2 separate regions of the Homo sapiens genome follow, and region 1 is reported to be linked to region 2. Evidence: microRNA targets listed by miRTarBase, many of them from high-throughput screens and not tested one by one. Region 2 holds a microRNA gene; the other region holds the end of a gene's coding sequence.
The links. The annotated mature microRNA hsa-miR-34a-5p reads UGGCAGUGUCUUAGCUGGUUGU and lies in region 2 at 2,028-2,049, opposite strand. An mRNA with a match to its seed (bases 2 to 7 or 8) in the 3' UTR can be bound and repressed. Matches are read on the target gene's strand: a 7mer-m8 pairs with bases 2 to 8, a 7mer-A1 pairs with bases 2 to 7 and ends in A, and an 8mer does both.

Region 1 (3,000 bases), not on the chromosome of region 2:
CAGTTTCCCTAAACCTCCATCCTCTCATCCCTCTAACCCTGTGCCCCCAGGACCTCAGCAGGACCCCAGGCTATACTGGCAGGGGGGCCCAGCACTGGGCCGCTCCTTCCTGCATGGACCAGAGCTGGACAAGGGGCAGCTACGTATCCATCGTGATGGCATCTACATGGTACACATCCAGGTGACGCTGGCCATCTGCTCCTCCACGACGGCCTCCAGGCACCACCCCACCACCCTGGCCGTGGGAATCTGCTCTCCCGCCTCCCGTAGCATCAGCCTGCTGCGTCTCAGCTTCCACCAAGGTTGTACCATTGCCTCCCAGCGCCTGACGCCCCTGGCCCGAGGGGACACACTCTGCACCAACCTCACTGGGACACTTTTGCCTTCCCGAAACACTGATGAGACCTTCTTTGGAGTGCAGTGGGTGCGCCCCTGACCACTGCTGCTGATTAGGGTTTTTTAAATTTTATTTTATTTTATTTAAGTTCAAGAGAAAAAGTGTACACACAGGGGCCACCCGGGGTTGGGGTGGGAGTGTGGTGGGGGGTAGTGGTGGCAGGACAAGAGAAGGCATTGAGCTTTTTCTTTCATTTTCCTATTAAAAAATACAAAAATCAGCTGGGCTTCGTGGCGTGCATCTGTAATCCCAGCTACTCGGCCGACTGAGGCAGGAGAATCGCTTGAACCGAGGAGGTGGAGGTTGCAGTGAGCCGAGATTGCGCCACTGCACTCCAACCTGGGCAACAGAGCAAGACTCTGTCTCAGGAAAAAAAAAATGTTCTTGGTTAGGGATGTTTGAAGAATAGAGGAAGTGGGCTGGGCACAGTGGCTCATGCCTGTAATCCCAGCACTTTGGGAGGCTGAGGAAGGCAGATCGCTTGAGCCTAGGAGTTCAAGACCAGCCTGGGCAACATAGTGAGACCCCCATCTCTACAAAAAATACAAAAATTAACCAGATGTAGTGGTGTGCTAGTCCAAGCTACTCCAAAGGCTGAAGTGGGAGATTGGGTAGAGCCCAGGAGGTCAAAGGCTGCAGTGAGCCGTGATCATGCCACTGCACTCCAGCCTGAGCAAGAGTGAGATTCCTTGTCAAAAAAAAAAAAAAAAAGTTCTGTTTTCTCCTTGGTGCATCTATTTGACAAGAGAGGAAACACAAAGATCACTTTGGGTGACTGTCTCTCAAAGCAGACAATGCAAAATACCTAATGAGTTGGGAGGCCAGGGTGGGTGGATCACTTGAAATCAGGAGTTCGAGACCAGCCTGGCCAACATGTAAAACTCCGTCTACTAAAAATACAAAAATTAGCCAAGCGTGGTCCAGGGCGCCTGTAATCCCAGCTACTCAGGAGGCTGAGGCAGGAGAATCTCTTGAACCTGGGAGGCGGAAGTTTCAGGGAGCCAAGATCGCGTCATTGCACTGCAGCCTGGTGAGGGGTGTCGCAAACCACCATGGCACACATTTAACTATGTAATGGAACTACACATCCTGCACATGTACCCCAGAACTTAAATAATAATAATAAAAGATCACTTGAGGTCAGGAGTTCAAGACAAGCCTGGCCAACATGGCGAAACCTCACCTCTACTGAAAATACAGGGTCTTGATCTGTCGCCCAGGCTGCAGTGCGGTGGCATGATCCTGTCTCACTGCGGCCTCAAACTCCTGGGCTCAAGCGATCCTCCCACCTCAGCCTCCCAAATAGCTAGGACCGCCAGCACAGGCCACCACACCCGGCTATTTTTTTTTTTTTTTTTTTGAGATGAGGTCTCATTACATTGCCCCAGCTGGTCTCAAACTCCAATCTCCCGAAATGCCGATCTTCCCGCCTCGGTCTCCCCAAGTGCTGGGATTACAGGCATGAGCCACTGCCTGGACCTCAAATACATTTTGGAACTCAGAATTTACCAGTATTTAAAGATGGTGTACAGGATTATACCATCTTTTTTTTTGAGATGGAGTCTCGCCCTGTTGTCCAGGCTGGAGTGCAGTGGCATAATCTCAGCTCACTGCAACCTCCACCCTCCCAGGTTCAAGCAATTCTTCTGCCTCAGCCTCCCAAGTCTGGGACTACAGAAATCCGCCACCACGTCCGGCTAATTTTTCTATTATTAGTAGAGACGGGCTTCACCATGTTGGCCAGGATGGTCTCGATCTCTTGACCTTGTGATCCACCCGCCTCGGCCTCCCAAAGTGCTGGGACTACAGTTGTGAGCCACCGCGCCTAGCGCTTATACCATCTTTTATGCATCACCTCAGTGAGGTCGGGACAGCATTTTGTAATCAAACACCACATCTTTTTTTTTTTTTTTTACAATGAGAAGTGTTAACATTCACACTAAGTGGGATAAAAATCAAGACTACAGGCCAGGCGCGGTGGCTCATGCCTGTAGTCCCAGCACTTTGGGAGGCCGAGGTGGGCGGATCGCCTGAGGTCAGGAGTTTGAGACCAGCCTGGCCGACGTGGTAAAACCCCGTCTCTACTAAAAACACAAAAATTAGCCAGGCATGGTGGCCGGCACCTGTAAACCCAGCTACTCAGGAGGGTGAGGCAGGAGGGTCACTTAAACCCCGGAGGTGGAGGTTGCAGTGAGCCAAGATCATGTCATTGCACTCCAGCCTGGGTGACAAGAGCGAAACTCCATCTCAAAAAAAAAAAAAAAAAAAATCAAGACCACAGTTACCAATCTGGCTAACATGGTGAAACCTCATCTCTACTAAACATTTAAAAATTAGCTGGGTGTGGTGATGGGCACCTCTAATCCATGCTACTAGGGAGGCTGAGACAGGAGACTCTCTTGAACTCAGGAGGTGGAGATTGCAGTGAGCTGAGATAGTGCCACTGCACTCCAGCCTGGGTGGCAGAGTGAGACTGTCTTTAAAAAAAAAAAAAAAAAAAAAAAAGACTACAATTAACAAAAAGTTAGTTCAGGTCAGAGATTGCTGCCAAACAATTCACCAAAACAACTTGATTTCCAGGGCTTTTTGGATTTTGGAACTGG
Region 2 (3,903 bases):
GAACTCAAATGAATAAGCTGGCTACTGCATAAAGCAACAGAGGGGTCCCTTTAATTTAAAAGCTCAGGACTCTGAATCAATTGCTGGTTGGGAGAAGGTAGAGACATTCTTTACTTCTGCCTAGAACTGGGGAAAATGGCGTAGACTTCTGCTCTGAAGCAGTCCTCAGTGCTGCTTCGGTCAGAACTCCCGAGAGGCATCTGAGTGCTGGCCTGTCACTGCGGCTGGCATTCCAGGCATTTCATTGGCCCCACTTCAGCCCACGCCTGGCTCCACGGGGCTGGGCAGCTGAGGGGAGTTTGTGGCAGAGTGGGCATGGGGCACGGCCCGTGCAATGTGCGTTACAAAGGGGCTCTCTCTGAAGCAAGTCCTCTGCACTCCAGTCTATTTGAGGAAGAAAAGGACAATTCCCATAGGGAGGGGGTTTGCTGAAGCAACCAGCTGCCTGGTTTCCTCTCCAGCATTGAGAGGGAGGGAGGGCTGGCTTAACTGGGGGACGGCCTTCTCATCTGGACTGTGTCAAGGCCAAGGTTAGGCTCCAAATTCCAGAAAACCTCTCTGCAGGGTCTTCTTTCAGAGTGGTGAGAATGGAAGCAGGCTCCCTTCCCCTCCAGCACTAGGAAGCCCCGCAATTGGTGAGGTGCAAAGAAAGATGGGCCCAGGCAGGGAGGCGGGAGCAGGGGAGGTGCCCAGGGCAGTGGCTGGAAGGGCAACGGGAGAAGCAGCAGAGGCTGGGGGTGGGGGTCGCAGCAGGTGCTGTCCCTGGCCTGTGTGAAAGGTACTAGAAGGCCCCATCCTTGGTGCCACATGGACCCCAGAGGCTTGTCTTAGTCCATGGGGTCCGAGGTGTAAGACACTTACGTTTGGCGTCACCTCTTAGGCTTGGATGAATTTCAGAAAGTGCTAGACTGGAGAACAGTGGAAAAAATCAGTGGAACAAGATCTGGAGCACTCACTGCTCAATGTCAATGTTAGAGAGCACAACGACACCAATGGGAGGAGGGTGAGGACCAGAGGCTGATTGCATGAGCTCTGTTGGAGTGCAGGACCCACTAACGGGTTATCTCAGGGTTCCTGGAGGCCACGGCTGTGCCTTGTGGTCCAAGACCTGGGGAAGCCACCACTGTGTCTTCCCTCTCCATCCTCCGGTGACTTTGGTCCAATTCCTGTTGCCATGGCAATCAGCCCAGCTGGCCTCACAGTTCACTGGCCTCAAAGTTGGCATCTGTAGGTGAAGCCAGTGGGACCCAGAGAACTTAATTCTTCTCAACTGAGCTGGCTTGGAGGAACTTTTCTCATCAGCCACTGGAGCAGAGAACGTCACCAGCGTCTCACTGACGTCAACATCCTGGGCCTGGCTCTAGCTGAAAAGGAAAATTCTCCCCAAGGCAGACACATCTCCCGAAGCCCACACAGGCACTTTCTATGATTGCACTGGAAATCTGTCTCCTGGGGACAGGGAGCGCGTACGCTCACAGTCAAGTCACAATGTTGAGCAGTCTCCAGGACTCCACGTTCATCTCTAAGAACAGGAGCCGGTGGTTGGGCGCAGATTCTTGAGCCAGATTGCTCGCGTTCAAAACCTGGTCCCTTTTTATTAATTGCATGCTTAGTTACATTTTCTGTTTGTACTTTTGTTTCCTTCTCTGCAAGACGGGGTTAATCACAGACACTTGTACATGATGTAATACACTTACAATACTTAGGACAGGCCTTCCTGCATAGTAAGTGCTCTGCAAACACTGGCTACTATTCTCCCTACGTGCAAACTTCTCCCAGCCAAAAGCCGCCCACACCAAGCCCCTGTGCCTTTTTCCTTCCGCACCCACGAGCAGGCTGCTCCTGGGGCCCTGGAGCTCACTTTCCCAGCCGCCCTCACCACCCACCGTGGCGCAGAAGAGCTTCCGAAGTCCTGGCGTCTCCCACTGGTCTGGGCATCTCTCGCTTCATCTTCCCTCTTGGGCCCCACAACGTGCAGCACTTCTAGGGCAGTATACTTGCTGATTGCTTCCTTACTATTGCTCACAACAACCAGCTAAGACACTGCCAAAGAAACACTCACAGCTGGCCGGTCCACGGCATCCGGAGGGGACTCGGGGGACAGGCCTGTCCTGCCTCTCCCCAGCACCTGTTGATAAGAAGGAAATGTGGGGAGGAAAGAAAGGATGCAGGAGGCCGAGGTGGGAGGATCGCTTCAGGCCAGGAGTTCAAGACCAGCCCAGGCAACTAGCAAGACTCCATCTCTACAAAAAAATTTTAAAAATTAGCCAGGCATGGTGACATGCGTGCCTGTAGTCCTAGCTACTGGAGAGGCCAGGGCAGGAGGATCGCTTGAGCCCAGGGGTTGAGGCTGCAGGGAGCTGTGATTGCGCCAGTCTGGGTGACAGGGTGAGACCCCGTCTCTAAAAATAAAAATTGGGTGATGGCTCACACCTGTAATCCCAGCAATTTTGGAGGCCAAGACAGGAGGATCACTTGAGGCGAGAAGTTCAAAACCAGCCTGGTTAACATAGCCAGACCACCACCTTCAGCAACTGTCTCTACAAAATGAAAATAAAAATAATGAAAGAGAGAGGATGGAGGAGAAGGCTGAGACCAGTAACAGATTCCAAAAGGACTAATTGACAAGGAGAAAAAGAGTCAGCACTTCCCTGGAAGAGAAAAAATTCGAAAAGGACAGTGGTTGAAAAGTCAGCATGTCTGCGTGAAAGGGAAGCAATGAAGTAGCGCCAACTCCTCCCCCGTCCCGGGCACCGTTTAGGGAGAGGATCAGAGTTCTGCCAGAGAATCAGAACCAGAAGGAGATATAGATTAAGTTTATTTCAAGGAATCGGCTTACGTGATTGTGGGGGCTGGCTAGGCAAGTCTGAAATCCAGAGGGCAGGCCAGCAGGCCGGAAGCTCCCCGGAGGAGCTGACACTGCAGTCCCCAGGCAGGATTTCTTCTTCTTCAGGGAAACCTCGGTTCTGCTCTTGAGGCCTTTCAACCGATTGCATGAGGCCCACCCACCTCGCAGAGGAGAACCTTTGACTTACAGCCAGTGATCATCAGTGCTGACCACATGTACAACGCACCTCACAGTAGCACCCAGGCAAGCGTTTGGTTGAATCATGGGTATCACAGCCTCGCTAAATTGACAAGGAAATTGCCCATCACAGGGTTTAAGATCTAGTGCTTTAAGATCTACTGACTTCTTGTTGTTTTGTTGTTGTTGTTTTTATAGAGATGGGTTCTTGCCATGTTGCCCAGGATGGTCTCAAACTCCTGGGCTCAAGTGATCCTTCCGCCTCGGCCTCCCAAAATACTGGGGTTATAGGCATGAACCACTATGCCAGGCCAAGATCTAGTGACTTTGGATACGGACCACCACGGAACAGTTCCTCTTCCATGTGGGTGTGGGGGCATGAAGGACTGTTTTCAGGAGGATCAAAGTCACCTCTACCCCAGCATGGGAAGTCCCAGAAACTTGAGTTCCAGGTAAGGTAGTGCAGAAAAAAGCAGGCTCATGAGCCAGTGCTGTCTCTCTCTGTGCAAGGGGGAAAGAGCCCCTCTGAGGCCTCCACACACAGTCAGCAGGACACAGGACACAGAGGTCAGCCTGTTGTGGCCACTGTGAAATGTCCCGTTGGAGTTGACAGGAGCCTGCTCTGACCTCAGTCCTCCTCCTCCAAACAGGTGACCCTGTAATGCTCTGGTTAAAAAGCAAGCCAGCTGGACTGTGTTATCTTTTAGTGTGGGAAAAATGCTCTTAGGCCGGGCGTGGTGGCTCACACCTGTAATCCCAGTACTTTGGGAGGCTGAGGTGGGTGGATCACTTGAGATCAGGAGTTCGAGATCAGCCTGGTCAACATGGTGAAACGCCATCTCTACTACCAAAAAAAAAAAAAAAATACAAAAATTAGC

Region 1: miRTarBase lists CD70 as a target of hsa-miR-34a-5p. The part of its 3' UTR that is shown has no 7-base or 8-base seed match.

Annotation. Positions count from the first base shown.
Region 1 is chr19:6,583,456-6,586,455 of GRCh38, reverse strand. CD70 (CD70 molecule) reads left to right here. Exons shown (of 3, transcript NM_001252.5): 3 at 51-617. The coding sequence ends at 436. Among named protein-coding and RNA genes, the nearest start is that of CD70, 6.2 kb to the left of the region's middle. RefSeq lists an enhancer at 1-743.
Region 2 is chr1:9,149,708-9,153,610 of GRCh38, forward strand. It overlaps MIR34A (microRNA 34a), which reads right to left and starts at 2,070; the gene lies at 1,961-2,070. It overlaps MIR34AHG (MIR34A host gene), which reads right to left. Exons shown (of 2, transcript NR_132742.1): 2 at 1-2,128. RefSeq lists a silencer at 1,879-2,115.